Homo sapiens: one gene and its partners. The protein of the gene in region 3 purifies or fractionates together with the protein of the main gene of each other region. This does not show direct contact. Each region holds a gene or a part of one and is shown on either strand. Other genes may lie near its edges. The genes, in order: BTBD9, KLHL7 and MSRB3.

The links.
Region 1: the proteins of MSRB3 (region 3) and BTBD9 purify together in Homo sapiens (affinity purification with mass spectrometry; 2 studies listed by BioGRID and IntAct, with this or other methods). This does not show direct contact.
Region 2: the proteins of MSRB3 (region 3) and KLHL7 purify together in Homo sapiens (affinity purification with mass spectrometry; 2 studies listed by BioGRID and IntAct, with this or other methods). This does not show direct contact.

The regions. Positions count from the first base shown.
Region 1 is NC_000006.12:38,585,899-38,596,847, forward strand, and holds part of BTBD9 (BTB/POZ domain-containing protein 9), read right to left. Parts: intron 10,170-10,949; exon of another isoform or gene 9,872-10,169; intron 8,478-9,871; exon of another isoform or gene 8,438-8,477; coding exon of another isoform or gene 8,430-8,437; coding exon 8,066-8,429; intron 6,943-8,065; coding exon 6,678-6,942; intron 1-6,677.
Region 2 is NC_000007.14:23,106,757-23,117,705, reverse strand, and holds part of KLHL7 (kelch-like protein 7), read right to left. Parts: exon of another isoform or gene 10,912-10,949; intron 1-10,911. UniProt on the Homo sapiens protein: Substrate-specific adapter of a BCR (BTB-CUL3-RBX1) E3 ubiquitin ligase complex. The BCR(KLHL7) complex acts by mediating ubiquitination and subsequent degradation of substrate proteins. Probably mediates 'Lys-48'-linked ubiquitination.
Region 3 is NC_000012.12:65,452,734-65,463,682, reverse strand, and holds part of MSRB3 (methionine-R-sulfoxide reductase B3 isoform 2 precursor), read right to left. Parts: intron 9,956-10,949; coding exon 9,858-9,955; intron 529-9,857; coding exon 361-528; 3' UTR 1-360. UniProt on the Homo sapiens protein: Catalyzes the reduction of free and protein-bound methionine sulfoxide to methionine. Isoform 2 is essential for hearing.

The DNA of each region.
Region 1 (10,949 bases), on a different chromosome or scaffold from region 3:
AGGAAACTATAGGGATAGGTACAGGGTAAACAGGACAGACCACACACACACACACACACACACACACACACACACACACACGCATATTTATGTGTTAACCAATAATGTAACTTAGCAGTCCTATGAACAGATTGACTTTTTATTCAATAAAGATATCTTGAGGATAGAATTTGTGATATGCTCCCTACTATAAACATTCAGAAACAAGAAATTACTCTCTTTCCCCAAATCTAAAACCTGAGATATACAAAATGAAATATAACTCAGCCTTAACAAAAAAGCACTAACTTTTTAGGATAGATAGAAATATCTCCACAGCTAAGACAAAGCTAAATGTTTGGCAGAGGTACAGGTAGTTCAAATATCCTAAGAAAAAAAAATTCATTAAAAAGTTAATTCTCTTTCCCCAGCTGTATAGAAAAATGTTCATCATTATATATGCATAAAACTAGTCTAAACTACCTTCCAGAAAGACCATCACAGATAAGTTTAAAACACTGTTTGGATCTTTTTTTTTTAAGGGGGAAAAAAAATCCCTGTAATTTGGTAAAAGCCTTAGGACATGCAGCTCTAAGAATTAAACTTTACAGTAACCAACGATAATAAATTCAAAGAAAAAGCATTAGTCTCTATATCCCAGTCCCAAGATAAAACCTCTCTACACTTCATGAGAAGTCCCCAAAGACACAGAATCTACATCCAGATTCTGAACAACAACAACAACAAAACCAAATTCTGTCAATAACTTCAAAATAAACAGACCTATCTTTTCAAGTCGTCAGCCCAGGAACACTTCTGAAATTTTATATCCTTTTTTTCCCCTAACAGTGAAGAAATTTGATAAAAGAAAACAATGTCATGAATGTTAAGATAACATTTACTGGCCAGGCGTGGTGGCTCATGCCTGTAATCCCAACACTTTGGGAGGCTGAGGCAGGTGGATCACCTGAGGTCAGGAGTTCAAGACCAGCCTGGCCAACCTGGTGAAACCCCATCTCTACTAAATATACAAAAATTAGCCAGGCGTGGTGGTGGGCACCTGTAATCCCAGCTCCTCGGGAGGCTGGGGCAGGAGAATCACTTGAGCCCAGGAGGCTGAGGTTGCAGTGAGCCGAGATTGTGTCGTTGCATTCCAGTGTGGGTGACAAGAGTGAGACTCCATCTCAAAAAAAAAAAAAAGGATAAAATTTACTTAGAAAATAACCTATTTTTGGAGATTGGGTGGGCCCACATGAGCCTACAAGTGAGGTGCAGTGGCCATGGAGGGCAACCGAGGGGTCAGTGACCACAGACTCCCTGCAACACCCCAGCCTGGCGGCCTGACATCGGCCCAGTCAGTGGAGACCTGTGGAGAGGTGGCGGTGGTGGCCTCCACAAGCCCTCTTTTTCTAGGGTTGTATAGATAGAACATCCTGGAGTCCACCATGAACAGACAGTTGGACCTAAGTGGGAAGGTAATCATGAAAGCTCAACTTGGGGAGGATATTCCAAAAATTCCTATTCATAATGAAGATATTAATATTACTTATGATGAATTAGTGCTAATGATGCAACGAGTTTTCAGGGGAAAACTTCTGCGTAATGTTGAAGTAACAATAAAGTATAAAGATGCAGATGACGATCTTATAACAATTTTTGATAGTTCTGATCTTTCCTTTGCAATTCAGTGTAGTAGGACACTGAAATTGACATTATTTGTTAATGGCCAACGAAGACCCCTTGAATCAAGTCAGGTGAAATATCTCTGTCGAGAACTGACAGAACTTTGAAATAAAGTGAATCACTTATTGGATAGCTTGGAACCACCTGGAAAACCAGGACCTTCCACTAATATTCCTGAAAATGTTACTGTGAATGGTAGGGAAGAAAAGCCTGCTTCTTCGGATTCTTCTGGAAAACAGTCTACTCAGGTTATGGCAGCAAGTATGTCAGCTTTTGACCCTTTTAAAAAACCAAGATGAAATAAAAAATAATGTTACGTCGGCATTTGGCTTAACAGATGATCAGGTTTCAGGGCAACCCAGTGCTCCTGCAGAAGACTGTTCAGGAACATCTGACAGCATTGCCGCCTCCTCCTCAGTAGCAGCTCACCCACCAGGAGTTCAGCCACAGCAACCACCATATACAGAAGCTAAGATACAAGCAGGTCAGACTGAAAGTCAGCTGTATCAATAGTACCAGCAACAGGCTAGCTATGGTGCACCGTGTCTGCGGGCTCTACCTCAGCAGCCTCAACAGTATGGTATTCAGTATTCAAAAAGCCAGAGTCAGCAGACTGGACTCCAAACAACCTCAGCAGTTCCAAGGATATGGCCAGCAACCAACTACCCAGGCACCAGCTCCTGCCTTTTTGGTCAGCCTCAACAACTGCCTGCTCAGCTGCCACACAGTACCAGGCAAGCAATTATCCTGCACAAATTTATACTACCCAAACTTTTCAGCCTACTAATTATACTGTGGCCCCTGCCTCTCAACCTAGAATGGCTCCAAGCCAACCTGGGGCCTATAGACCAAGATCAAGTTTTACTTCACTTCCTGTAAGTAGCATGACCCCTCCTCCAACTGGGCCTAATCCTTATATGTCCTCCCTTTGGTCAGGGCTATACCAAACCTGGACCTGGTTATCGATAACGAGGCTTATCTACACCAATTAATGTAGCTGCTAGCTATTGGCCTCCCAAAAGACTCCAGTACTGTTTTAATCTGTAATGAAGTTCACAAATTTTAAAAGCAGAGCATTTGTTATATCTTTGTTGCTGTTAATTGAAAGTATAATTTGCTGGAACACAAAGACCAAAATCAAAGTTCTTTCCTCCCTGCTTAAAAATATAGCAACTTCTTAGTTATTTTGGAACACTACTCTTACATGTATGTAAAGTGATTGACCTAGCTTCCCTTGTCCAGAGGATATTAAAATGCTAGTGTAAGGTTTAGTCATCTTACTTGGCTTTCTGCTATTAACATGATGTACTAAAAGTAGAGCCCTTTTAGAATACGACTAGATGTCATGTATAAAATGTAAGACTGATAGATTAATAAAGATGATTGAATTAAAAAAACCTATCTTTTCAGGGTCTGACAGGGAAGTGTAATGCTTCCTTGTATTTATATTATTGATTTTATTATTCACATGCTTTAAAAGTCAGGAAAAACAGACTTACTTAATCATTACTCAAGTTCAGAAGTTAGATAAAGGATTCCCAAACATTTACATAGTCTCTTCCTTGAGCTCCCCCTCATTCACTTCAAAGTGAAGAATTTAACATTGATGAACAACAATCTGTGTATGTGTCATTCCAGAACTGAGTGACTCAACTGGCTAAGTTCTCCCTTTCGCAACTCATCTCCTGAGTTTCTTGTAACCCAGGTACTACCCTTATACTGACCAGTTGATCAATTCCAAACTACCAGTAACCATGTGAAATGTCCAAAACAAATCCTCACTCCTGCAAACATGTCCCAAGATTATCCCTATAATGAATCCAGTTCTAGGGCCTTTTCAGCACTTCAAATCAAATGCAGGGCAAGAGAGGGAAAGGAACTTATATAAGACAGGATCCGACATGATAATTTGAAAAGCCTAACACTAATTACTCATCTTACTACCTCTTCACTTGCCATCCTCCCACACTTTATCCAAGGCTGACACTTAACTAGTACCATTCTCTAGCACCTCTGATTTCTTCCTGGACCTCTCCCAACCTGATCTCTCTAGCTACCATACTATTTTTTTACTACCTTACAATCCAATTCACAAATCAGACAGACAATATGTTATCTCTATTATCTTTTCAAACATCCATGGCCTAATTCCCTGGCAGCCAATCTTCTGTCCAGATTACTTATCAACTAATCACAATTTATATCCAAAAGTTGTCTCTCAATTTTCTTGACCTCCCTATCGTGAGCTACCATTGACCATTGGATCCATAGGAAAGCTCTCTCCTCCGGTTGTCCTCTGTAACTCTATTCTATCCCAAATGTCTTCCTTCTTCCTTCTCTACCTTAAGTCCCCTGGCAATAGGTTTTCTCCAAGTTTCAGACTTTGTTTTTTACTTCTTTTTCTATACTCTAGCAGCTCAGGTTTCAACTCTTTTATCACCAGCTTTGACTGGTCCTAAAGAGTAATGTGTTCCTATTTCCTATTAGACATTTCTCCCTGCATTCATTCACTAAGCATTCACCAAGCATTCACCAATTACCCATTATATGCTATTTGGTGTGTTAAATGTTGAGGATATAGAGATCAATAAGGCCTATAAAGATCATCTCTGCCTTCAAGGATCAAAGACAAGTAAACAAAAATGTTTAAAACAATGTGATCAAGGTGGTAATTCTCACACAGATATACACAGAAAAAAAAACACATCATAATGATATATGGTAACAATGGTTTCCTATATTGAGCTTGCACACATTATTTTAATTAAGTCTCATAACAATGCTAGGAGATATAAAAGGTAAAATTCCTTAAATAATTTAATACCAGATTGTACAACTAGTAAGTGACTAATTCAGGATTTGAAGTCAAATTTGTCTGGGCCAAAACCTATGTTTCTTCTCCTATGCCCAGTGAAAAGAAATCTAGACCTGATAAGTCAGGAGAGAATTCTGTTAAGAACATCTATTTAAGATCAATCAGTATTTCAAGAGAATGTTTAAAGGCATAGTCAAGAAGAGATAACTCAGGGAAATGACTAGTTTGGGACAGAAGTTACAACTTGCAACCCCAAAACCCTCAAACTCAATCTAAAAATCAAGCTCAGCATCTTCTTCAAAGAAGTACTGTACTGTATTTCATTACAGACATACCTAGTGTTCAAATTTTTAAATTTCTGAAATCGCAGTGTAGACATCATAGTGTGTCACAGTTAATTGGCAGTATTGTTTCTTTTCTTAGTGGAACATAAAATAATGGTGCCTGAGAATTTCTGGCTTCTTAGATTTGATAACAAATGGTAACTTTCTCCTAAACTTAATCCCCACATTTATATCCCTTGAATCATCAAGATCTATTTTTTTCCATTGTATCCGTTCTAATCATCCATTATTTTCCATTTTCCCTGCCACCAATCTGGTTTGAGGTAGTATCAATTGTGCACAGATTAAATACTCTCCTCACTGGTCTCTCTGAATCAGTTTTCCCCTATTCTAAATACTCAAATACAGCACTATGGATCAGTCTTTCAAAACCACCACTGCATGCATGCCACTCTCCCTCTCTCAAATTGGTTCCTCACTGCATGTAAGGGAGATTCCAATCTAGTTTCCAAGACTTCCATAAACTGGCCTAAGCTGACCTTCACATAGTTTCTTTGCTATTAATCAATAAAAGCCTTCTACTCTAATCAAGCTCTTCTATTTATGGTCTCTTCAAATGCTCTAACCTCTGTCTATTAACCTCATGATTCTTCCCATCTGAAATTCACCCAACTCTTATACTATTCAAATCAAATGTCAAGGCTCAACTCAAGCTTCATAACCTCCATGAAATCTCCCTCAACCATACCAAGCCACTTCTTCTGAAGTTCTATAACATGTACTCCCTTGAATATTGTTGTATTTAACTTTTCATGGGAGTTTATGTCTTATTTCCACAATGAAATTAAAAGGATCAAAGGCAGAGACTATGTTTAACAATTATGCAGCATAGTTTAGTGGTTAATTACACAACTTCTGGAGCCAAACTACATAGGTTTGACTCTCAGCTCTGTCATCTTTCTGTGTGACCTTGGGCAAGTTACTTAACTTCTCTGTTTCAGTTTCCTCATTGTGTAAAATGGAGTCAATAACAGTATATACCTCAAAGAGTTGTGAGAATTAAATCGTGTAGGACCTGTTCTTGATACATACTATGCACTCTGTAAGTGTTAATTGCTATAAATCCATTAATAAGAAAAATCACCACTTAAGTGGTGATAAGTATCATAAGTGTTAGCTACCTTATGTATGTATGTTACATAAGTGTTAGCTATTATTATTGTTATTTAGAATCTCCATGTTCAGCCGGGCGTGGTGGCTCATGCCTGTAATCCCAGCACTTTCTGAGGCCAAGGCAGGTGGATCACCTGAGGTCAGGAGTTTGAGACCAGCCTGGCCAACATGGTGAAACCCCGTCTCTACTAAAAATAAAAATTAGCCGAGTGTGGTGGCGGGTGGCTGTAATCCCAGCTACTCAGGAGGCTGAGGCAGGAGAACCGCTTGAACCTGGGAGGCGAGGTTGCAGTGAGCCGAGATTGCAACTTCCATTCTAGCCTGGGCAACAAGAGTGAAACTCCATCTCAAAAAAAAAAAAAAGAATCTCCATGTTCATGGTACCCAAAATAATAAGTACATAGAATGTACTCAGTATTTATTTGATGGAGGAAGGAAGAAAAGGTCTTAACATGAGCAGCAGCTTTTTAGGAAAGTGTCCATTTCTGACATTCTGGGGAGGAGTTGAGAAATCTGTCCAGGAATGGCAAGAAATACCTATTTGGGGGTCTACAAAAGCTAATCAATCTCAGGAGGAATTAACAGGAAAATGAAAGGGAAAGACATTCCATAGGCTAGCTGTTTATAAACGTACATATTTCATGTACACCTGCACTACACGGTTCTGTAGTAGCTTTGCGGTTTTAATGGCATGAGAGGCATACCAAGCTTCTTGGTTGAGTTTAGGATAGACAGGTACTTACTGAGCATGCCTCTATAATTGAGGTCCATATCCCGGCTCTCAGATCGCACTTTAATGGCATCCAGGATGGCATCAGGAGACAGCAGTCCTGAAGGCCTCACAACATTCAGAAGCTCTGTGAGGCTCATGAGAGGTAAACGCACAGCCTGCATGATTTCAGCATGATTCTCCTTTGAATTGTGCTTACACCAGTTTAATAAGGCTAGGAAAATATCTTTTTCGGGAGCTGCAAATGAGTCTCTTAACACGATGTTTAAAAGTGCTGTCTGAAAAGGATAAAAAGGTAAAATTCCAGTTATATGAAGTTCAACCACTGCATGACCAATCAGTAAAAGCTTACAGGACAAGTATAACTTAGCCAATTAACTCTTTTTGACCCTCTCCTTCCCTTATGCTTTGTGCCACATATTCTCCTACTCATTATGGCTGTGTAAACAACCAAGACGGTAGCACCATTCTTTTATGTTCAGGTATCTTGTACCACTACATCAAACATTTAATCTTTCCAAACACATCTGCATTCATCTTTTTTAAAACAGCAAAAAGAAAAACGCCAAAGTGAAAAGCTGTCAATACATTCAGATTCTTCAAGAGAGTGTACATTGTTAAGTTAGAAAGACATATTTGGCATTTAAAATTCAAATTTTGTTCCACAGTATTACTTCACTACCATACTTTTGGCTCTCAGATCTCCAAACTGACCTCCAGGAACAATGTTGCAACCCTCAAAGATCATTGTCTTTAAAAATTAAGTAGAAAAAAATGAAATAGGATAACACAGATCTTAATTTACACTCAAATCAAGATATGTAGCTTTTCAATAGATTTTTCTCATTAGAAATATCCAGGTTCTAGAAGGAACACAACAAGGCAAATGGAGAGACAATCACTACCCAGAGTTCAAAGGAAGATTTGAGCAAAACAGTTTTACTCTAGCTATAATACTGAATTTTAAGCCAGCAAAAAAAGCAGGGACTTAAAGACATCAAATGTTGCATCAGATCTCCTCTATGAATTTGCCTGCTTGCTCTAAGGAATTATTAGTCACACTCTCTGTCAGAGAAAAACAAAACCAAAAGGTAGTATGCAATACCAAAAAGGACCCTATTTGATTGTCACTACCTTGAAAACAACCACACAGCAGCACAGTCTCTTTTGCACATAAAACTTACCTGAAGAACCTTAAAAGAAAACACAACCAACCAGCCCCTCTCTTTTATGATCTAGAGTCCTGGTAGCTAGATGCAAGTGGCTAGACCAGATAACCAATGATAACGCTTTGATACCAATGATTTTTTTTATTATTCTTAGTCCATTGCTATACTTCTACAGTATAGGTATAAATAAAACAATGCATGCCTATAAATTACTTGTAGACAAATGACACACCTTAGAAAGGGAGAGGAAACCTTCACTTGAGAGGACTTCCTGAGCATTCCTATCCATAAACATGCAGCACATACAAGTTAACTTGGGAAGTGAGTAGAGACTGGCAACATCAAAAGTCATGCAGACATTCTGAATGTTAAGTATGGTGCAGAGATACTCAGAGGTAGAATCCTCTAGCTCTGGAAATCCATATTTATGAGCCAGGCTCAAAAAGTCCAGCAGCACCTCCTCCTTCTCATCTGTCAGCGTTGCCCGCCCAGTGTAGATATATTTGAGTAGCATTGTGAATGCTTCTGCAGTGGTGTCTTGGAGAGGAATTTCTGCTTCAGGCTGAGACTCTCGCATTCCACCATATAATAATGCTCTGCACATCAGGGAAGAAACACATGAAGAAACCCTCAAATAGGATTTGCTACAAAATATTGGAAATAACAGTTATCAACATTATGCAAATATAAATTTTTTTAATGACACAAAGATCCAAGTGAAAAAATGCAAAGTAATCATTTAAAATGGTTCTTTACAGGACACAAGAGGAATGATTTTAAAACTATTTGAATTAATTCTGTAAGCCACTGAACTAATGAGATACTCTGAAAGCTCAAGATATGTGACAGATATTAAATAGAAAGATGAGAGTGATCTTTTGAGAGGCACAATGAAGTTGATATAAAGATGTTAAAGGTCAATAAGGCAATTTAAAAAGTAAAACTCTATAGGAAAAGATATAATCAGATAAACACTAATATGATGCCATTCTCCCCTGTAAGACTGGCAGAAATTAAAAGGCTTGTTAATATCAGTGCTGCAAAAGCAATGGAAAAACATGTTCTTTGATATGCTGCTTTGAGAGTATAAATGGCAGCCCTTTATGGAAAGTAATTTAGTAGCATCTAGTCAAATCTAAAATGTGCATACCCTTCAACTCAGTAATCTCTCTTTTAGGACTCAATTCTAGGGAAGTAATACAGTAAAGAAAAATGTGTAAGAAAACATACTGAAACACTAGTAAAAATCTGAATGTCCATCAGCAGCAACATGGTTAAAAAAACTGTGATATACGCATTCTATGCAGCCATTAGAAAGATCAAGGGAGATCAACAGGTACTGTTTTGAAAACATGTCCAGGATATGGTAGGCAAGTAAATAAAATTGCAGATCCATATGTACTGCATTAAAAAAGTACATAACCAAATATTTACATGTTTATGCACATATGTCTACATCGGTATTTCTTTAAATCAAGAAAAATCAGAAGAAATTCATATTAAACTCTTAACATCACTTATTTCTGGGAAATGGTATTAGATGGCTGGGAGACAAAGACTTTCATCTGTTACTTTATAAATTAAAAATGAAATTACTGATAGGATTACAGTGATTTTTTATTTTTTTCCTTTCAGATTAAACAAAAAGCCCTACATTATTGCTTATCTAAAAAAATGAAAACTAGACAATCCAGTTAGGTAATGAATTTGAATTTCTACCTCTATCAATCAAGAGGAATAATATGAACCAATTAAACTTCCAATCTATCAGGAAAGAAAGGACGAAGAGGACAAGGGAGAAGTGCAGAAAAGGGAGAGAAGAATACAGAATGAGAAAGAAAAGATGCAAAAGTGAGAGGAAGAGACTGGAAATAAGAAAGAGATTCTCCGTGTTGCTAAAATTCTCAGAGTAGGACTAGCATTTCAGGTTTACCTACCTGGAACTTGTCCCACCCTCCCCCAGGACCTAGCATTCTTGCTTGCCCCAGAAAAATAGTTGAAACCACCCAGAAAAGATTCATGAATATTCTGAGCATACCTCTTCACTGGGTTATACTCTGCCTAAAAGTACCCCTGAAGGTTTCCATTAATCCAGAGAGCATCCAACCATTACCCTAAAATTACCAAATTAAAGAACTTCTCCTTCTCGGGGAGACCTCAAGACTTATCCCCAATCCTGTATGATCCATGGTATTTATTTGGATTCTCAATGCTTTAAAAGTGGTTTTGATGAGGCTCCCTTGGAACAATAAACATGAACCCCCAACTTCAACAAGGAGACAAGCACAGAGGTTCAATGTTTACTATGAAGTTTCCTCCTATACAATTCCTTATCTGGGAATTGATAGGCTATTATGACAGCACTTAGGCCTCTTCTGACAGCTGACAATTAACATTCCTTTGCACATGAATACAGTCAGCATTGAGAACCTGTCTAAGGTAGCATTGAGCTTAGCTCTAAGGTAGACTTAGAGGTAGAGCTTAGCTCTAAGATAGTCTAAGGTAGACTCTGAGCTTAGCTTAGTGAGCCAGCAAATATTACGAAGGTTCAATATCTACAAAGACATCAAGAACAAGGTCAATAAGCGGGGGGAGTATATTCCATTCACTCAATACGATCTTCAAATTTCTCAAAGTATTTGAGTTTTTTTTAAGGATATACTAATCACCTAAAAGATATCCTCATAGAGTTGTTTCAAATTATTTTTGAAAGAGGACAAGGTACACTGTACTAATAAACAATAAACACAGGCTGAGAAGTTCTGACTTAATAAAAAGTGGGCTCTTGGCCAGGTGCAGTGGCTCAAGCCTGTAATCCCAGTACTTTGGGAGGCTGAGGCGGGCGGATCACAAGGTCAGGAGATCCAGACCATACTGGCTAACACGGTGAAACCCCGTCTCTATTAAAAATACAAAAAAATTAGCCGAGCGTGGTGGCAGGCGCCCGTAGTCCCAGCTACTCGGGAGGCTGAGGCAGGAGAATGGCGTGAACCCGGGAGGCGGAGCTTGCAGTGAGCCGAGATCGCGCCACTGCACTCCAGCCTGGGCGACAGAGTGAGACTCCGTCTCAAAAAAAAAAAAAAAAAGTGGGCTCTTATAAAACACTTTAATAGTAA
Region 2 (10,949 bases), on a different chromosome or scaffold from region 3:
AGAAATCACATTTGTCAGAAAAGCAGAGAAAAACAGGATTGAACTTAAACACATACACAATTAGAATAAGGCAAGTGGGATAGTGAAGGAAAAACAAAGGAAGATACCTAGACTAAGCAGAAGGAAAAGAGGGACTGCCTTCCTTAAGGGAAACATATGCCAGGTCAGGCCAAACAGCTTTGCAAAGGAAAGGAGACTTGGGCATAATTGCCCTTTAAGAGCTGGGACTAAGAAAAAAAAGCTATTTTTGTTATTTATTCAAGGAAGGTGTTATGGACCAAACAGGAATAGAAGAAGAGAAGTAAGAATTCAGGAGTAGGTTAAAACAGTTCTCTCAGAAAGGCCTGGATCAGCACTTTGGGAGCCAAGGCATGTGGATCACCTGGGGTCAGGAGTTCAAGACCAGCCTGGCCAACATGGCGAAACCCTAACTCTACTAAAAATACAAAAATTAGCCAGGCGTGGTGGTGCGCGTCTGTAATAGCAGCTACTCGGGAGGCTGAGGCAGGAGAATCACTTGAACCCGGGAGGCAGAGGTTGCAGTGAGCTGAGATCATGCCACTGCACTCCAGCCTGGGTGACAGAGCGAGACTTGATCTCAAAAAAAAAAAAAAAAAAAAAAAAGGCCTGGCTCTAGGAAAATTTTATGATTCCTCTTAATGCTAAAGATATTAAGAGAAAATTAGAGGATTTCTCTTAAAGAATAGGACAACTATAATAGGCCATTACAATTAAGTTCAGACAGATTTGAAAAGGAGAAAGATCAGCAAGAGTATTTCTTGCATTATTAAGTAATTTTCAAGGTGATATTGCTGGGAAGACAGGTGTGGTATTTGCTATATGGCATATGGTATATAGTGGAACTGAGAAGTTTGTGGAATTAAGACTGTAAGGGAGAGTACTAGATCACATTAAAGTAAGTCAAATAACCCAAAAGTAGTCCAGCTCTAAGTTATATGCTGGACATCCCCACAATTAGAATTACCTTTCTGAGAGTAGTGACGGCTGGCAGTAGCTGAGCTAATTCTGAACACATGTGCTCTCTTATTTTCCACTAGGGGAAGTTCTGTAGGAAAGGCATTAGAGGAATATGTATGCAAGCAAAACAAACACCAAAATCATAAGGAAAAGAAAAAGAAAGGTATTCTAATCTAAAAAGGTCAGCTACCTGATGTAGAAAGGAAAAGATCCAACTTAAGCAGGTTAACAAGTCAGCTGAGGCTGCCTGAAAGAACAGATGTACCACAGAGGAAAATGCAACACTAGAGACATAGCCCATTTTGACACAAATAGGTGACAGAAAGGAACATGTCTGCGCTGCTGCTGAGTTTGCAAGGCCTAGAAATTTCAAATACTGAGGAAAAGCAAGGTTTTGAGGAGCATGCTGTAAGGGCCATAGTGGTCCCTGTGGGACCACGGGCCTTAAAGGAATGTTAAAGGCCATTCTCCAGCTGAGACAAATGGAGAGGAAAGGAGGACAAACCCCTCCAAGAGACAGGATTCATAGATACAAGGAATTTCACAGCATGACAGGATCTTAATGGGCACACAAAAGTGCAGAACAATCAGGAAGCTCAGAATTGTAAGGAATGCAAGGCCACAAACTGTGCTCTGCAGAACTGCTGGCTACAAATGTAAATCACTCTCCTCTCAAAAATGAGAGAAGGCTTTGTCATTAGATAGAACTCAATCATTTCAGCATTAGGTTGCCAGGAACATAGGGTTCAAAAAAGATATCAAAATTAAGCTTTAAATGTGCAGGATGGATAATAGGGAAAAAAGGGAAACTCTATGATACCTGGTAGCTGAGTATTATCACCCTGGCAAATCTCTAACAATTGTCTAAGAAAAAGAATGAGTCCTGGCCAGTCGCAGTGGCTCACTCCTGTAATCCCAGCACTTTGGGAGGCTGAGGCCGGCAGATCACGAGGTCAGGAGATCGAGGACATCCTGGCTAACATGGTAAAACCCCGTCTCTACTAAAATACAAAAAATTAGCCGGGTGTGGTGGTGGACGCCCGGTAATCCCAGCTGCTCGGGAGGCTGAGGCAGGAGAAATGCTTGAACCTGGGAGGCAGAGGTTGCAGGGAGCCGAGATCACGCCACTGCACTCCAGCCTGGACGACAGAGCGAGACTCCATCTCAAAAAAAAAACAAACAAAAAAAACCCAAAATGAGTCCTATGCCAGAGAAGCATCAATATACATTGAATAAATCTCTTCTATAGATGGTAAACAGTGCCCCTATAAGCATGGAAGATTCCTCCCAACTGAGTTTAGCCCTAGAGTCTATAGATTACAGAAAGCTGATTCAGACTGGCAAGCCAAAAGCCAAGATTGTTATGTTTTCTTTGAAAACCCTCTGTTCCCCAGAAACCAAAGTTTATATTCTGTTTTTGGCTGCAAAAAATAATGTGGGTTAGGACTGTATAAATAAAATGTCAACATCTGGGCTGTTTGGTACAGAGATGAGAGATCTTCTTATATCAATCCTAGGGACGTTCTAACATACCGGAAAGTGTGGCATCAACTACCTTGAAATTGGACAAATTCAGCTTTGGAGGTGCTAAGCTAACTAAATCCATTCCAATGGAAGCCAGCCCACATTGCAGCTGCTGAAGAAGCTACCCTGACTGTACCCAAACACTCAAGCAAACGCTTTCTGGCTGACTAAACTGAACAGTATAAGAAACCAGGGTGAGCACATATTTGGAATTCAATTGCCTTTCATTTTAATTCAGAGGATGAGCATAGATGTTGGAATTTAATCATGAGAGGGCTCATAACAGTCAGATTTGGGAGATTCTGTGTTGCTAATACAGAATTATATGGAGTGCTTTAGGCTGTCATTTGGTTCACCACAGAACATCTAGAGAGCTATGACACCTTGGCTTAGAAAAATTTGAGATGGGAAATAGAAGTGAATTGCCAGCCTGTAGTATCTCAAGGCCTGGTGTTAATAGTTATCCACCCATTTCAAAGCTTTCTTGGGTAAAAATTTAAATAACCTCTTAAGCTGGTATTCGGATGATACAAAAAAGAACAGTTATTGGTAGAGGAAAGTAGCCACATAAGCATTTAAGATAGAACAAAGCATTCCCTGAGCTAGTAAGAAAATAGACCAAAAGACAAGGCAAACTTGGAAAAAAGAACTTACAGCTACTTGGTCCAGCTACTTTGTGCTGGAGTTTGGGGTGGGGCTTTGGTGCCTGAATTCTATCATTCAGCCCACTGAGATTCTCAACTCAGGTTGTTTATATAAGGAAGTATCAATAACCAAACGAGACATAAGAAGATGCACTTTTGACTGAAGGGCAAGTACTTGTTAATCTCCCATATGCAGTGCTTCTCTCATAAAACAAAGTTGGAAAATGAGGCTTTGCTTGATAAGCCAAACTTTAAATTGCCCCTACATATCCCAATAATCTAAATTTTGGAAGCTGCACAGTCGTATGTCCTACATGGGAAAAATGAGAGATGGTTTGGCCCAAACCCAGCTTATGGAGTCCATCATAACACATACCTTACCTGTCCTACTCAGCAGATGGATTCCTTAAATACAACAAGGTAGCCCTCAACAGAGTAACTTTACCATTAATAAAACAACAGTGTCTTCAGTTCTAACTTAATTAGATTAGCAACTCCTCTCTCATTTGACAAAGTGAGGAAGTGAGGTAGATATGAGCTCAAGATGCCTCATTTCCTTTCAGCTTCTTACATTCGTGCTTTTCAAGCTTCTTTTTTATGTAGCAGAATTCATTCTCAAATAAGCTAATCTGATATAATTTATATAGACAGCATGGTCTCTATGTAGCAAGAATTAACAGCCTGGCAACCAAAAAATGGAAGAGGCTCCCTTCAATATTCGGGGGGTTTTTTTGAGACAGAGTTTCGCTCTTGTTGCCCAGGCTGGAGTGCAATGGCACGATCTCGGCTCACAACAACTTCCGCCTCCTGGGTTCAATCGATTCTCATGCCTCAGCCCCCTGAGTAGCTGGGATTACAGGCATGCGTCACCCGGCTAATTTTTGTATTTTTAGTAGAGACGGGGTTTCACCATGTTGGCCAGGTTAGTCGTGAACTCCTGGCCTCAAGTGATCTGCCTGCCCCAGCTTCCCAAAGTGCTGGGATTACAGGCGTAAGCCACTGTGCCCGGCCTGGCTCCCTTCAATATTATACTTAATGATTCACTTACAAAAATTTTGCTTCTAATCTCAGCAATTAGTCTTTCTGCTAGTGGGTTCTGTTAGTTTAGAGATTTTGAGGCCCAAAAGAAAAGTGATTCCACCAAGTGATAGAAAAATGTTTCCATGGGATTGAAAGTTAAGACTGTGACCTGCCTATATTAGCCTCCTCATTTTTACCTCCTGTTCAGGTAAAAAGAACAAAAGACAGGGCTTTGAAGGCTAGCTTAATATTCAACGTAAGTTCATAACAATGTCAAAAGAATCTTCAAAAATACTGACAGCCATAATACCATTTCTATTCTTCGCAAAGACTACATTCCTCAACCTCCAGCTTTGCCTTCTTACTCCTTCATTTTAGCAGATGATCTCATTCTATTTTTTTTTTTTAGAGAAAAGAGAAATCACTGGATAGAAACTCCTTCATTCTTCTGATTCCAAACACACCTACTATCAATCCCCTCTTTCTTCCCACTTCTTATGGAAGAGGAACTGCCCCGCCACCCCTGTCTGAGATTAATCACATTTGCTTTGGATCTCATATCAGGAATTATCTATTAATTGCCCACTCTGTCTCATATATATCCAACCTCTACATCTCTTTTTCCCACTAGTTTTTAAAGACACCTATATCTTTCCCATTTAAACAAATAAAACCCAGCAACCTTCGTTTGACTCCCTCTCCCTTCAAGGCCAAATTTCTCAAAACAGCTGCCAGAATTTCCTCATATTCTACTCACTTCAGCTTACATTAATCTGATTCCCATTTGTCTGCCCATCAAAATAAGTCTTACTACAGTCAACAAACCACTCTGTGTTGCTATGTCCTACTATAAGTATTTTTAGTTTTAATCTTATTCTGATCTTTTACCAGCTTCAAAAGTTGCAGTCCTCCTGTGAATACAGTGCTTTAGACCATTTGGCCATCCTGACTTGCTGGGAAGGAGAAACAATTTCTTCCCAATTTTCGAAACTCTCATTTTTCTCCTATTCTTCTGGTGATTCCTTTGTTATCTCCTCCATAGGCCCATTTTCTATCCTTTATTCTGGACTCTGGACTCTTGACTCTTCACAGCTTCAATGAAGAAGTTATCTTCTATATGCAGATAATTCACAAATATATACATCTAACCCACAACTTTCCAGACCTGTCAATTTGTCATATATACTTCAGTGTCACAATGATATCACAAATTAAACACATCTAAAACACAAATTATAATCCTTTCCCCAATGCTTTGATCCTTTTCCAATACCTCCTTTCTCAGTGAATAGTGTCATCATCCATTTAGTTATGCATTCCAGAACCCTAGAGATCATAAGTGACACCTTATGCTGAATCCCTCAACATCCAATCATGTACCAGCATCACAATACAAATAGCTAACACTTACTGAGATGTTACTTGTTATCAGGTCGTATTTTAAGTTATCTTAATTTGGTTACCTAATTTAGTTATCACAACCACATATGGCAGTTATCATCACCAAGTCCTGTTGATTTTATTATCTTTTTAATCTATCACTTTTTCTTCATTGATGTTGCTTATGGCTGCCACTGTCATCACCTCAGTCCAAAGGACCATCATGTCTCACTGGACCACTACAGCTTCCTATTTGGTCTGCCAGCAAGCACTCTGAAAACTCTTTAATTCATTTACCACAAAGCAGTAAGTCTTTTTTTTTTTTTTTTTTTTTTTTTTGAGACGGAGTCTCACTCTGTCTCCAGGCTGGAGTGCAATGGTGCAATCTTGGCTCACCACAACCTCTGCCTCCCGGGTTCAACCAATTCTCCTGCCTCAGTCTTCTGAGTAGCTTGGACTACAGGCACGTGCGACTATGCCTGGCTAATTTTTTGTATTTTTAGTAAAGATGGAGTTTCACCATGTTAGCCAGACTGGTCTCAAACTCCTGACCTCAGGTGATCCACCTGTCTCAGCCTCCCAAAGTGCTGGGATTACATGTGTGAGCCATTGTGCCAGGCCAAGTCATCTTTTTTAAAGAAGAAAACATACCATCTCTACAAACATGCATGCACATGCACACAAACATGCATACACAGATTTTAGAATAAGGGCAAATCACCTAACTTGACTTATGAAGCTATGCATGGGCAGGTCTCTAGCTACTTCGCCAGTTTCATCTAGAACCATCGTCCGCCTTATGTTCTGTGCTCCAATTACACTGACCTTTAATCAGTCTCGAACTTGCCATTCTATAATAAAGTAGGTCTCCAACTCAGAGCCTCTGAATATGTTGTTCCCTCTACTTGAGTCACTCTTCCCTTTTCTCTTTACCTAGTTAACACCTACTCTTATTTCAGCTCTCAATGACCATTTCCTTAGAGAAAACTTCCTGATGGTCAAATTACCCACCCATATGCCCTCGTTGTACCATGTTATTCTCCTGTGTAATACCTACCACTGTTGCAATATTACATTTATTTGTGTGATTACTTGACTAATGTCTTGCTTTTCTACTAGCCTATAAACCACAAGAGGATTGGGACTGTCAGGGTTTGCTTATCATTGCAACCCCAGAATCTAGCAAAATGTTTAGCATACAGTGGGTTGTCAATAAGTATTCATTTCAATGAATGAACTTGGAAGCCAAATTGAACTAGAGTAATAAATAAATAGTAAGTAAGAAAATGTAGTGAACCGCATGTTCTCACTCATAGGTGGGACTTGAACAATGAGAACACACGGACACAGGAAGGGGAACATCACACTTTGGGGACTGTTGTGGGGTGGGGGGAGGGGGGAGGGATAGCATTAGGAGATATACCTAATACTAAATGACGAGTTAATGGGTGCAGCACACCAATATGGCACATGTATACATATGTAACAAACCTGCACATTGTGCACATGTACCCTAAAACTTAAAGTATAATAATAATAAAATTAAAAAAAAAACAAAAGAAAATGTAGTGAATTTACTCAGCTTTTCATCTTAATGGGGGGAGAGAAGTATTTAGAGGGGTATGTTGAGATTAAGAATGGGTTTGCTGGTTGTTTGGTTCAAAAGCTGGAGAGGTTAAAACAAGCTTAAGTGCTAATAGCAAGAATCCAGCAAAGAAGAAAAGTTAAAGATGCTCAACAAAGATGGAATAACCAACAGTATAATACTTCTGAGAAGCCCAGCATCCAGGAAGCCAAAGCCTAGGTAGAAGTACTGGCCTTAGAAAAAGCAGCAGCATCTCCATTGTAGCAGGATAAGAAGAGAAAAGGGAAAGTGTCAAAATAGGTTTATAGATCTGGTGGTAGAAAGTGAAAAGGTAGACAGTTCTAGACTAATGACTTCTATTTATCTATGGTGTCAAAAGAAGGTGATCTGCTGAAAGTGAGGATCTAGAGAAAGGACTCAGATTGGAGGAAAATAGTAAAACAAAAAGATTGCTCACGGGCACTGATAGTCTAGTGGAAATTAGTGGCCAAGCACTTACTTGGCAGAAGTTGCCCAGTGAGATATTTTCCAGCTGTGCTTGGAGCCTTGCACAAAGAAGGTAATCAGTCATCAATACTCAAGTTTGCCAGATGGACATGAAAAAGGGACAGAGGGTCAAGAAAACTGGGACACTGGAGAGACAGTGGAGTGACAATAGCTTCTAAGCTGGACAGACAGAAAAAGAAAACAGAAAACAGTAAAGTACAGGAAAAAGAATAAGAAGGTCTGGATGACTGGAATTGTCAATGAAAGTTAAGAGAATTAAATGAGACAAAGCATGTAAAACACTCTGCAGAGTGGCTGGAACAGTTATAAGTGCTCAAGAAGTCTTATTAATATCAAGGGTTTAACACTGAAGGTTTAGATTATTCACAAGAGAACCTAAAGATAATGACATGTAGTAATTTACAGTCAGACAGATGAGAATACAGAAGCAAAGTCATTTTAGCCGGAAGGTGAGCCCAGTTAACTGCCCAGTATCTAATTGTGAAATCAGCTTTGTAGTTCTCTCACATAACTCTCAATAAGGACTTTAACATAAGCTTTCAAGTTCCAGTTATGCTTTAATTCATTTAATGTGGAGAAACTATAAACTATGGTGGTACTCAGGAAGGTCTTAAAACATCTTCCTCCAATGTTAAGAGACTCCTGGACTTCATTAACACAAAAGAAGAGTATGGCAACAGCAATGTGCATGTGCAATAGTGACTGTGACCCAGACCTGCCTTGTAAAGCCTCTATTTTACATATCAGGTAATAACATTAATCTAAGCAAAAAGTTAAAGAAATAAATGAAAAGGTACTCAATCCAATTAAATAAGATGCTCCTATACACCCAGTTAGAATGGCTAAAGTGATAAGACTGACAACATCAAGTGATGGCAGGGATGCGGAGCAAAAACCTCTCTCACACACAACTGGCAGAAGCGTAACATGGTACAATCACTTTGGAAAACTACACGACGATATCTTTTAAAGCTGAAGGTGGTATAGCTTATGACTCAAAAATTCCTGTTTGGTATTTCCCAACACAAATATTAATACATACATATGCATACCAAAAGGCATGTACAAAGTGTACAAAAATGTTCAAAGTAGTACTAGTCTTAATAGTTCCAAACTAGAAATAACCCAAATGTTCATAATGATAGAATGGATAAATTGTGCTATATTCATTCAATGGGATACTATATACCACAAGGATGAAGTAGCGCTACACACAGCACAGATGAATCTCACAAACAATGTTGGCTTTAAGAAAACAAAACACAAGAGTTTATGCCATATGATTACATTTATATAAGTTCAAACACAGGAAAAACCCACTTTTTGCCGATGTGCTGCAGACTTTCATGAATGCACCACACACCAAAGACAGAACAAAGAGCTCCTCTTAATAACAGGGGTGCATAGTGCCCTTAGAAGATGGCATGGCATGGTATTTATCAATGGTTGCTTCTGCTCTAACTTCGATGGTTACAGAGTTAGAATAGTTGTTACTACTGTGGGGTTGGTGACTGAGAAGGGCATAAGGGGGGACCTCTGGTGTACTGGTCATGTTCTCGTCTTGTTGGTGGGATGTGCACTTTGTAATAATTGAGCTATACATTTATGATTTGTGCCCTCTTATATGTATCCCATACTTCACTGGAGAGTTTACTTAGAAACAAAAGGCTAGAAATGACAAAAACAATGTAGGAAAAGGCTTTAGAAGAAGCCGAGGCTGCTGGCTCTGCAGAATCCCCTTTTGCCTCTATGTATAGAATCGGCCACTATACTACAGAGAGATGGAATGACCCAAATCATGTTATCTAAAATAACAAAATGAAATAATGAGAGAGCAGGATTGGAACTGAGGTATGCTAATCTCACAATGTTCTCAAATTCTTGAAGGAATGTTTCTGGATGTTTACAGAGGGGTCCTTGTCATCTAGGCACTCATTATCCTGATCCTTAAAGCAATGAGATTGTAAAGGGATGTAAAAGTAGTCATAACACAAAAATATTTACTAAAGAACAAGAGCACTTATAAAGTTGGTCCTCACTCAAACATTCCTACTCTGGCTCAGACCAGCCACTGTTTCTGCCAATTCCCATCAACTGCCCTTGTCAGTCATTCTCGGTCAATTGTTTCCTGTGTTATGATGTTAAACAGGACAATACAATATAACCATAATGTAAATCAATTGCGAAGTGAAACTGCACATCTTGCAAAAGATGCATGATTCCATGAAGTTGATAAAAGTGCTATTGGAGAACTGTTTGAATCACATGCCAAACCACTGACAACAGGAGAACCTGGCAGATTAAGGTCAGTTAATCATTGTGGAGGGGACCCCTGGTTGTTCACCAGGTAACCATTTTTTCCTTCCTACTCAGTAACAGAACCCTGATTTTTCAGTAATTGTACTTCTATTGTAACGGTAAATAAGTGATGTTAATATACTCCAAAGCTAAGAAATGTGAGTCACTTTTTAAATCCAAAGAGCTAAACGGACAGTCTCAGATAATCCTCTGCTCCTCAAGTAAATATTTGCTGCTGCAATCCAGTTTCACCCTATTTAGGGATTAAGGCAATGCTTTACAATGCTATGATCCACGAATGAAAACATATATTCGAGGGAGTGGGAGGGAACCTAATGAGTCTTCAACGAGTTTAAGCCCTGGTTAACTATGTTCAACTACCATTACAGGCAGGCAATAGCTAAATGCACCAGCAATTTGAAGTCTGTGGTATTGTAGATACAAAAAGGTTTACATGAAAGGAACATGAATTTGAAAATAGATACATGAAAGTCAGTTACATAAATTAACGAATTCAGGCATTCACAGTACTTCAGCACAAAGGCCAGGCCAGGAAAGATTTAAAAGCATTCCCACAGACTGCACTGGTGCACTGTAGCAGGAGCTGGTGAACAAAGACAAAATCCCAGCAGTCAGCGTTTGCTTATAGAAACCAGAAGTTAATATCTTCATAAAAATCTTAAATTCCTCTACTGTTGCCCATATTCCCAGCAGAACCACCAGACAAAGCAAACTAGGTTTTGCAGTTACACATAACTCACATCCTGCTTTGTCCCCTTGAAACAGGATCCCAGTCAACAAAACCCAAACATTCCCACAAATCTACTTAGATGTGTATTATCTATAAATAAAGCTTACAGAAAGGAAAAAGTGACTTTCTATGCTTATCGGTGTAGATGTTATGGAATTAAAAAAAAAAAAAGCCTCTTTGTTTCACCTTCGCCAGCGTTAAAATCCGTTCTTTTCATAACCCACCTTTCGCCGATGTGCTGCAGAATTTCACGAATGCACCA
Region 3 (10,949 bases):
CAGAGGAGATCTCTATTTTCATGTTTGAAGACCATGAACCCTCTGCTTCTGAATCAAAGGGGGAAAAACTGCAAAAGAAGCCATGTGCTCAAAGAAAAGAATGCCAAAGGGTATAAGTGGCTTGTGAAGAAGTTTCACAAAGCTGTCTCCATTTGCTAAAGCTATAAACAGTTCTTGATCTAGTCAATTGCAAAATACATGGATGGCCAGGGCTTCTGTTTAAGCAAAAGAAGAAAAAATATCAATAGCACAAAACTGCCCTTATAGTTTTTGAAAAAATATATCTATTAAGATAACAATTTTGATTTTTTTAATAAGCTGTGCATTAAGTACACTTTGTTTCCATCACTCTCCATTACTCTAGAGCTCCGCTTTGTCTGCCTGGGCCGGGCTGGCGACCCCACTGCCTCCCTCGGCGGTGCCACTGCTATCCGCAGGTGTAAAAGACAAGGCAGCCGAATTTATGCAGTATCTTTTCCCAGTTGGACGAGGCCCATCATCAAAAATGTGCCCAAGGTGAGCACCACACTGAAAGAGAAGAACAAAACGTCAGGGAAAAGCATGTACAAAGCAGGCTTTGAGAGGAATTCACATTAAGCAGTTTAAATGGATGACCAGCCTGTAGAGAAATGAAGGAAACCATCGTGGATGATTTCTAATCCGCCTGTCAATAGCCGCAAAGATGGTTTCTGGCAGGCTTTGCGCCACATGCTGAGAACAAAAAACACTAGAATTGTGCATATCAGAAATCATTTAGGAGCCACGTATTTTTTGATCTGTGAAGTCTCTCAGCCAGCTGAAAAATGACTGCAGTAATTTTATGAATCAAGTTGACCCTTGATCTTCCCTTGTAAGAAACATGGCAGCATAAAATCTTTCCCCCGGCATTACTTTTGGCTTTGGATGGGTGGGTTTCAGATATGCAGAAGTCCACTGAAAAGATACTGTTTAACTGGCCATGACAGAGGTGATGTTTGCTTTCATGGGCAGTAAAACTTAACATCAGACAAGTATTGGATGTTCTTGGAACCCAGCGAAGCAATGGCAAGGCTCAATAGATTTATGTCACAGTCACCAGGGCTGCAAATGTAGCAAAAGGAAACATCTCTAGCACACACAATTGTTTTTTTCCTGGCTTCCAACAAGTAGTGTCATGCTGGCTTCTTTATCCAAATGAACTCTAATATAAAGAAAAGCAATAAGCTGTTTAGCTAAAATCAATTTTACTGACTATTCAAAAAGCTGGGGAAGAAGAGACCTAAGGTCTAGACAGAGGCAGAAGGAACATCATGTTGGTGTTTGAGAGAAATAAAGCCCAGAGAAAGTTTCTCCAAAAAGGCTGGCTCAGTGAACACCCCTACACTAACTGCGTTGATGCTGGGTACAGCTCCAGGAGATGAAGGTACATGTCACACTTAGATATCTACTGCCCTTTTCCATCAGGGATGGGGCGAACGAGATGGAGACACTGGTGCACCATATTCAAGCAGGCTGTGAAAATCCATCATTTATCATGGATCAAAGAAACCAAAGCCTGGGGTAAATGACTTCCATTCATTCGTTTATTAATGGAGTGCCTGCTATATGCCAGGCACTGTTTTAGACTCTGGAGTACAGGCAACAATCCCTGGCCTCATAGAGCTTACATTCTAGTGGGAGAGACAGACAGTACACAAGAAAACAAGTGAACTATAAAGCATGGAAGGTAGAAAGCAATGCTAAGGGAGCAAAAAAGGAAGGTGATATGAAATGTTAGATAGGGTGGTCAGAAGAGGCCTACCTGGGGTGACTTTGGAATAAGGACCTGGAAGAAGTGTATCTCTAGGGGAGGGCATTTCGAGAAGAGGGAAGAGTCAAGATTTAGGTAAGAGTATGAGAGAAAAAGCATATCAATGATTTGTTAATTCTCACTGTGCTGATTTGGTGTATAAAACACTTATAAGTTTCAAGGAAAGAGTATGAATTCACAAGGGACTGGGGATGAGACACCAAATGGAGATGAAGAGAGAAAAATGAGAGAAAGTGCTCATTACAATGAAAAGCACTAGAATCTTAGTTTCCCTGTTGAACATGCTAAGCTCAATTCTCAAGTATTCCCTAGTTATTAATAAATAGCAGAAATAGCAACTTTGACTGTATGGCACTTCCATGTTAAAAGTGCATTCTCATTTCACTGCCAGCAAACTCTGTCAGTTTATTAAAGAGCTAAAAATGAACCCTGAACTGATTTGATCTATTGCCTAGAAAATATGAAACAGGCCTAAAAAACAAATCTTGTATTATTTTACCACATTCGATGCAGGTTTAGGTAATATCAAGGCTGACAGGTCAGACTGCTTTTCCTTTCTATAAACAATTGATGCCAAATTTTTAGGCATCCACAGCTAAGATGAACCAGTAAAAATACATATGCTTGCCCAACGGACACAGGAAACACCCATTTCTGCCTACCAAAATAGTCAAGGTGCTGTCCAACAGGAACCAGTGCTCTCAGTGACCAGTGTGTGTGCACAATTACTGATCTCAGATGCAGCTCCAGCACTTGGATCACTTGGCATTTAAGAGATGAAGTTTTCATATACCTAAAAGCCTTAGGGGTGTGTGTGTGTGTGTTTAATGAGAGAATGCAGCTATCTGGGAAAAATAAATGATATTGCCTTTGCTAATAATCTCTTGAGCATCTTTAGAAAATATTTCTATTTATTCTACACCAAAAATAAAGCATAGTGAGGATATATTTGAAGGTGTTTAAGAATGAGTTATATGGTCTTAATTTCCCAAATCATATTTTAAAAATCCAAATTACAGTAATTGAATCTGTTGAACTGGGTGAGTTTTCAACCTGTAGTTTCATTTGCTAATCTGGTACTAGTATTCTGGTTAAATAGAAAGGAAAACACTGATTCTAGGTGTGTCCCTAATCCAAGGCAAAAAAAAAAAAAAAAAGTGAGGAAGAGAAATTATAGTTAGAAAAAGACTATGAAAACTATTTGCTAACAAATATATGGGTTGAGGATGGGGGTAGAAAAATCCTCAGAAACGGTTTGAGTCCCCTGAAAATGATAGTTATGGCTTCATTATACTTGCCACAGGGTGTTCTGGAAGAGTCATAGCAGCCTTAGGTTACTAAGGGAAGAGCATCATCTCAAAACATAGAAAGGTGTTCATCTGTATCTGTGGCACCACATACATCCCCGCCCCACTGCCGGCAAAGCCATTTGTCTGAGGGAAGCCTAACCACGCAGTGCCATTCGAGCCTCCTCCCAGGTAAACCTAGTCTCCCAGAAAGGACTGTTACCCGGTTTCTTTGAAAAGCGCACAAGCCTTGAAGGCTCCTCCCTGAGAGTACGCGCACGGAGCCCATTCTTTGCAGCTTCTAGCCTTGGGAAAGCTGGGAGGATAAATGGAAGTTGCCAGAGGAGCATTGTTTCTTTAGCTGCCTGCAAGCTCTGCCTCCCAGGCCCCAGCCAACTGGCAATGTGTTGGGGTTTCTCAGTACACCTGGTTGTAACTGAAACAAACTGGTTGCTCGATGAAGAAATCTCTGAGACCTGCTGTTAATGATTTATTTCAGGATAGAATCTTTAGTGTGCATTTTGAATGTTGTTTTTAATGGTTATGTGTTTCTTTATTTCACAGGTAAATGTACCTGAATATACTGGTCTTCATTCTGAAGAGCATCAGATGATTGTTCAAAAGAAAAAATTTGAATTCTCACAACAATCCTTTATCACCTAAGCCTCCCACTCAGAAAAGCTGGCAGCTAAAGAACCTGCAGAGAACCAAGGGAAAGGACCCCCTAAAATAAGTGTTTGAGCATCAAGTTTAACATAATTCCTTAAAATCTGACTGCAGTTCTCAATTGTATACATAAGAAACACAAATAGTGTATTCAACACAGTTACATTTTTCTGCACTGATGTATTTCCCACTGTCTTAGAGGTTTTTCTCCTAGCTATTCCTAGGATGTTTGGGCTTTATTATTGTCATTTTCTCTTAAGTGTTTGATCTATGAAATGAAGCATTTTCAAAGCAGGGCTTTTACACTTGGACACATGGGGCAGGATGGGAAAAGTTTTAAGAAGAAAAGCAATTTACTTTGCCAGTAGTATTCTGTTTTCTCCCACTGTTATTGAAGACACTTGTGTGTAAGTGGGGGCTTTTTTTCCTCTGTGCTTGTGATATTAATCTTTTGCCAAGGAAATGACTGTGAAGTCACCAGTTTAGCATTATGATTTTACTGAAAGATCAAGAAAAAGAGAGATGGGCTGTGAGTCTGAAGCCCTATTGTAACACATGTGTATCTTTAATCATCAGCAATATGTGAGTTGTCATCTGTAGAAGATTAATAAGGTTTGGGGTTTTTACCAAAAACTGCTTAACTTTTGAAAAATACTTTCTATTGGTGCATATTTACCTTTCTGTTGATTTGGCTGACTTAGAACAAATTAATAATGATCTTAAACAAACTTAAGGGACTATACCATAGACTCAAGCAGTAATAGCAGCACTCATAAATAGACTCCAACGTGGGTAAATTCAGAGATCTGATGGTTTCCTTAAAAAAATATTACAAAAAGTTAAGTGATTTATTAGTCTCCCATTTGCTCCAGCTGGAGGATTTTGATCTGAAGAAGGAAGAATTCCCCAAGTATTCTAGAAGGAACTTACTTCACTGAACTGCAGGTTAAACTGTGGAAATCTTACTTCTTTGCACTGAATTTAAACTCCTGACAAAGCGTTGCTTAACAGGCTGGGGTTGGAGGATTAGGGAGAGGCTGTTGAATAATTATTCATAGTAGTCAGTGAAACTGGAATAGAAGCAATGTATTTTATCACTAGTTGAAAATATAAATTAAATCAAGGAAAATTCTTTATAGCTGAAAATTGTTACAAGATGGCTGCAGCTGGAGGGAAAATACATGTGCCCACCAAAGCGAGTAAATTTAAGATGAAGATCCTCTTTGGAAGAGATAACTGAAATGTAATTCCTCAATTCAGTAGGTGGAATAACAAAAGAGAACAAGTAAAATTGCAACAGAAATCAGAATATAACAGGGTACCCATAAGCAACAATTATAATGAAGACAGTGAAGAATCTCTCCGACCCTTGCTTGTTTTCAGTGCTGTCAATGCAAAGATTAGGCAGTGTGCTGTTTCCTACACAACAATTCTTTTAGAAGAACCTCACTGCAACACTTCTAGAAAAAGTGGTGATAGGACTGAACCAATCTGAACTCTCTCAGTAAATCTTTACTAAAAACATTATCTGAGAAGTCACTGGACACATGGACAAACCTCTTTACAATGTACTGTAAAGCGGTGGTAGGCTATTGGCTCCCAATGAGTCTACAATTCCTATGCAAATATGAGGCCTAATTCACTGTATGCATGGTGTCATCCCTACCACAATTTTTTTTAAAAAAGGATCCTAAGCACTGAAGTGAGAATTAGGTAGGAACCAAAAGAACAATGAAATATTGCCATATTGCCAAACTGCTGATCAGGTTGAGTTGATTCAGGTTTTGTCCATGAAGGCTCAGTTCATTTGTAGAAGTTGGCAGTTAAAGGTTCTTCGTATTTAGATATTCCATCTTTACCAAAAGGAAAGAAATACACCACATAACACATCCGACTGAAAATGTCTACAACACACTAAAAGCATCTAATAGATTTTTTATAACACAAACCATATTGAGGCAACTCAGTCCAGAGAAAAGACAAGCCACGTAAATTAAGAATACAACAAGAATTTTAGAAAGAGAGCAAACCAGAATAGTTTCCCACATTATCTCACCAGCAAAATAATAATAATAATAATAAAATAAAACTCTTAAAAAATGGGAGAAGCTGGCTGCATAAATGTCTTCTTTTGAGAAGTGTCTGTTCATATCCTTCACCCACTTTTTGATGGGTTTGTTTTTTTTTTTCTTGTAAATTTGTTTAATTTCTTTGTAGATTCTGGATATTAGCCATTTGTCAGATGGATAGATTGCAAAAATTTTCTCTCATTCTGTAGGTTGCCTGTTTAGTCTGATGATAGTTTCTTTTGTTGTGCAAAAGCTCTTTAGTTTAATTAGATTCCATTTGTCAATTACACCATGGAATACTATGCAGCCATAAAAAAGGATGAGTTCATGTCCTTTGCAGGGACATGGATGAAGCTGGAAACCATCATTCTCAGCAAACTAACACAGGAACAGAAAACCAAACACCACATGTTCTCACTCATAAGTGGGAGTGGAACAATGAGAACACATGGACACAGGGAGGGGAACATCACACACCAGGACCTGTCAGGTGATTGGGGGCTAGGGGAGGGATAGCATTAGGAGAAATACCTAATGCAGATGATGGGTTGATGGGTGCAGCAAACCACCATGGCACGTGTATACCTATGTAACAAACCTGCACGTTCTGCACATGTTTCCCAGAACTTAAAGCATAATAAAAAATAATAAAATAAAATAAAATAAACGGGAGAAGTTCTGAGCAGAAGAAGAGACTACATGAACTGAAAAACTGTAAGGTAAAAGAAGATAAACAGATAATGAAAAAATAGTGCTAAAAATGAGAAACTAGGAAGTAAAATACAAGTGACTGCTCTAGCATGGGAACTACTAAATCTTTTATTTTATCAAGTCAAGGTAAAAAAAGATGCCTGAGAAAAAGGAAAATTTTAAAAAAAGAAAGAAAATTATAAAACAAAAGGAAAATAAACGTGAATGGAACACACAAATAAAAGACAGAGAAATTGAAATGAAAGATACCCAGTCCACTTGAATTCAGTACGCTGTTTTTGTGCTTAGGTGGCAGACACCCCCTCCTCCATCCACAAGGGCAAGGGTGTGGCACACATACCATTCGTTAGTGCTGGAACCTCATTCTCTCCTGCATAGAACTTACTTTACTCCAAAGCGTGTATTTTCATACATGCCTTAGCGGAACAAATTCCTCTCCCTCTTTTCTTTAAATTTAAGAGTTCTATTTAAGAAAGAGTCAAACACTTTCTAAATATGAAAAGTGAAGGCTGTGGAAAAAGAAGCCAAAAGGGAGCAGGTCAGTGTTGGTTCATCACACAACTGTTAGGAAAGAACAGGAACAGTCACCTTGGGCTTTAACTGAGGGGCCAACAGCTATGCTTGGTTTAGCCTGACTTCTTTTAGGAATGTTGCCTAATTTTGGCATTGTTTGTGGGTTTCATTTCTCTTTGGTCACTGTAGGACATCTTCATAATGATCTTTCCTAGACTACTACTGATGTTATCTATGTGACTGGCACAGAGAAAGAAAGAAGCTTATTCCAACAGTGAATTATAAGAATTTGTCACAAAGAGGTTAGAAAGTAGGGCCATAAGTAAAGTTAATATCTTATGCTTCATTTTTCTGTGCCTTTTAAATTTAGTTTTCATAAGATTCAATGTTTGAAAATGGGTTCTGAGTGAAAACGAGTTAAAACGATCACGTAACAGCATTTGTAGCTTGAAAAAGAAAATAAAAGAAACAACGATTAGTCTTAAAAGAGGTTTACTAAATACTGTGTACCTAAGTTACAAATTAATGTAAGCCATCCTACTTATAGTTTACCTTTTTGTGACAGTTATAAAATCATCAATCAAATTTAATTGAATTTAAAACTAAATTGCAGGCTGGGCACGGTGGCTCATGCCTGTAATCCCAGCACTTTAGGAGGCTGAGGCAGGTGGATCACTTGAGCTCGGGAGTTCAAGACCAGTGGGGCAACATGGTGAAACCCTATCTCTACCAAAAATACAAAAAATTATCTGGATGTGGTGGTGTGTACCTATGGTCCCAGCTACTTGGGAGGTTGAGGTGAGAGGATTGCTTGAGCTCGGCGGGTGGAGGTTGCCGTGAGCCAAGATCATGCCACCACACTCCAGCCTTGGCAACAGAGTAAGATCCCATTTCAAAAACAAAAAAAACCCCAAACTATATCGCATTAAGCCAACTGCTGGAAAATCATGAGATTTTTAAATTTTAATGACTCTTTTCAACCTGTCTATCTATCTGGGCACCATAAAGAGCTCTGGAGAGTACCCCAATTCAAGTCTCAGCTCTGCCACTTAAATCCACATAAGCTGACCCAAGTTTAATTGCTCTCTTTGTGCCTCAGTTTCCTCAACTGTAAAATAACAGAGAGAAAAAAGGACCTACCTCAGAAGGTTATGGTGAGCACTAACCAGAGGAGCTTTTAAAAATGCTGCTCCCCACACTAAACCTGTCCAATTACATTAGACCCTCTGTGGGTGAAACCCAGCACCAGAAAGTTCCACTATCACCATCAGAGACTCCACTCTGAGAAACAAGAGTGAGCTGAAAATGTGATTCAGATAAAATATGAAGTCTAATTTTCAAGAGAGAGAGTAGTCCTCACACTTGAAGGACAGGAGACTTGCCAGTCTTTTTTTTTTTTTTTTTAATAAAAACAAAAATTCATCAGAAGGTTAGGTTCAAACTAACCTCCCTCCCTACTTGGTAGTAAATATGCCACCTACTCCCTAAACATTTTGTGCCTGGTGGAGGGGGTTAAAGAAAAATGGATAAAGGGCAGGTAAAGAATGCTGAGGGAGGCCCATATGGCAATCACTTTGCTATTACAGCTGCCTGATCATGCTCCTGTACCTCTGATATGTCCAACAGATTCCCCAACAAAATACCCTGTGGTGTCAATAACTTTCAATGCCACAATATTGCAGACTTTACATTTCACTTATTTAAAGCAGGTTGAAAGAACAAGATTGCCTTCCATAGAATATGCAGCTGCTCTTATTCCATGTAGATGGAGATTCTATGTCTCTGTGTTTAAGCACAAAATACCCACAAGTTCAAGTCTCTCGATTGTGGGTGTCAGATTAACTATTTTTGCCTCCTCCTCAACACATGCTCATTTGCTTCCTTAGAGCCAGCATTAATTTGGTTAAAGCAGATGGACAGAACTAATTAGGAAATTATTGGAAATGAGGATGTCTGTATATCAGGAGAAGCAGAAAAGGAATTACCTTATCTCATGTAGCCAACCTACCACTGAACTTTCACTTCCTACAGCCTCTCTTCAACCACCTTCCTCACACCCACCTAAGAAAAGCCATTTCTGAGGTCTTCCTTGATTGTGTTTGGATCACTGCCAGTAGAGGCATTCTGACTGAACAGTGGGTACACAGAACTGCAAGGAGAGGGAGATTATCAAAATATCAGGTTATTCAAAGCCACATAATGAAATCTTCATATGCCCCAAGAACAGCCCACTCTTCAATTTACTGAGCCAATTGAAGATGATATTTTTCCTACCAATGATTTTGTTTAATAGTGGTGAAGCCAATAACTGACATTTTATTTATTTATTTATTTATTTATTTATTTATTTATTTAATTTATGAGACAGGGTCTTGCTCTGTCTCCCAGGCTAGACTACAGTGGCATGATCACAGCTCACTGCAGCCTCGACCTCCTGGGCTCCAGTGATTCTCCTGCTTCAGCCCCCCTGAGTAGCTAGAACTACAGGCATATGCTACCATGCCCTGCTAAGTTTTAAAATATTTTCTGTAGAGACGAGGTCTCACTAGGTTGCCCGGACTCGTCTTGAACTTCTGGCCTCAAGTGATCCTCCCCACTTGGCCCTCTCAAAGTATGGGATTACAGGCTTGAGCTATCATGCCGACCTTAACATTCCACTAGACTTGCTAAACACCTGAACATAGGCATCCATCGGACTTCATATAAACTTCGTCATGCTTGTCTGTCCTTCTTGTGACCAGTCGCTTGGCCTTAGTTGCTATATTTAGCACAACCAGGAGTCCTGAAAGCAATGTATTGGGTTTTCAGAAAGGATGAACTCACCTGAGAGCAGCTTGTTTCCACCCTGTGCATCCCATAGGAAAAGTCATCTGTGAATGTGATTGCCTCAGAATTGATCACATCGTGGAATGAAGGCCAACCTGGGACACAGCAGGCACAAGAATCAAAGCAGAGAGGAGAGATACACAGCCTTGGGTTAGAATGCATTTTAAAGAAATACTAAGCAAATAATGAAAATCCTTAGTGTATGTTTAACTTTTCAACCTGAAAAAAGAAAGGTCAAAAGCTGAAGGAAAATATATTTTGCAAGAGTACAGTTATTTTTTAACCCTTTCCTCATATTCAGATTACAGTTGCATTAGGGTTTGGTGCTTCATGAGACATTCTTAGACCATCCAATAGTTTTCTAGAGTATCCTTGAACTTAGAAGGCTCTCTCTCACCACTCTTTCTCTTGTCTTCAGAGTCACTCAGCATGGCCCTGAAGCACTATGAATCTTCCATTACGATGTTTTCCAAAACACAATCAATTGGTCTGGCTGTTAACTTTTCAACTATTCCATGCCTCCTTAGAAAGCAAGCTTTTTCAGTACCTAGTTTGGATAGTTAAAATTTTGTTTAACAAAACGACTATCCTGTTGTCACCATCCTCATCTAATTTCCTGGAAAAAGGGTTATCTGGAAATCATAGCATCTATCTATTTTTATGGGCAAGAAGCTTGTTCACTTCATAAGAGACTCATAGAGCATCAGTCCTCAGACATCTCTGGGCAGCACCTTATCTCAAAGAGCATCTAGTTCAAAGTTTTATTTATTCTAGTGATTTTAAAAATATATGCACACTTTAAGAAACTTGATGGTAAATGGATCATAGGATTGTACAAATGTTTTGAGTGTACAGTCAGGTTTTATGTTCAGTACTTATGGGCATGTTTTTATGTTTCCCCAAAATATGTCTGGAGTTACTGAGCTGAAGCCTGAATCCCCAAAATGATGAAAGAGGGGCGATGTTGCTGAAGTGCTGGTGCAATTTTTTTTTCTTTTTCACAAGTCACATTTACTTCTGCAGAAAGGAAGAAGCCCGTTAAGAACCTGGTGCTTTGTGTTAATACACCTATTGAAAGAAAACAGAATG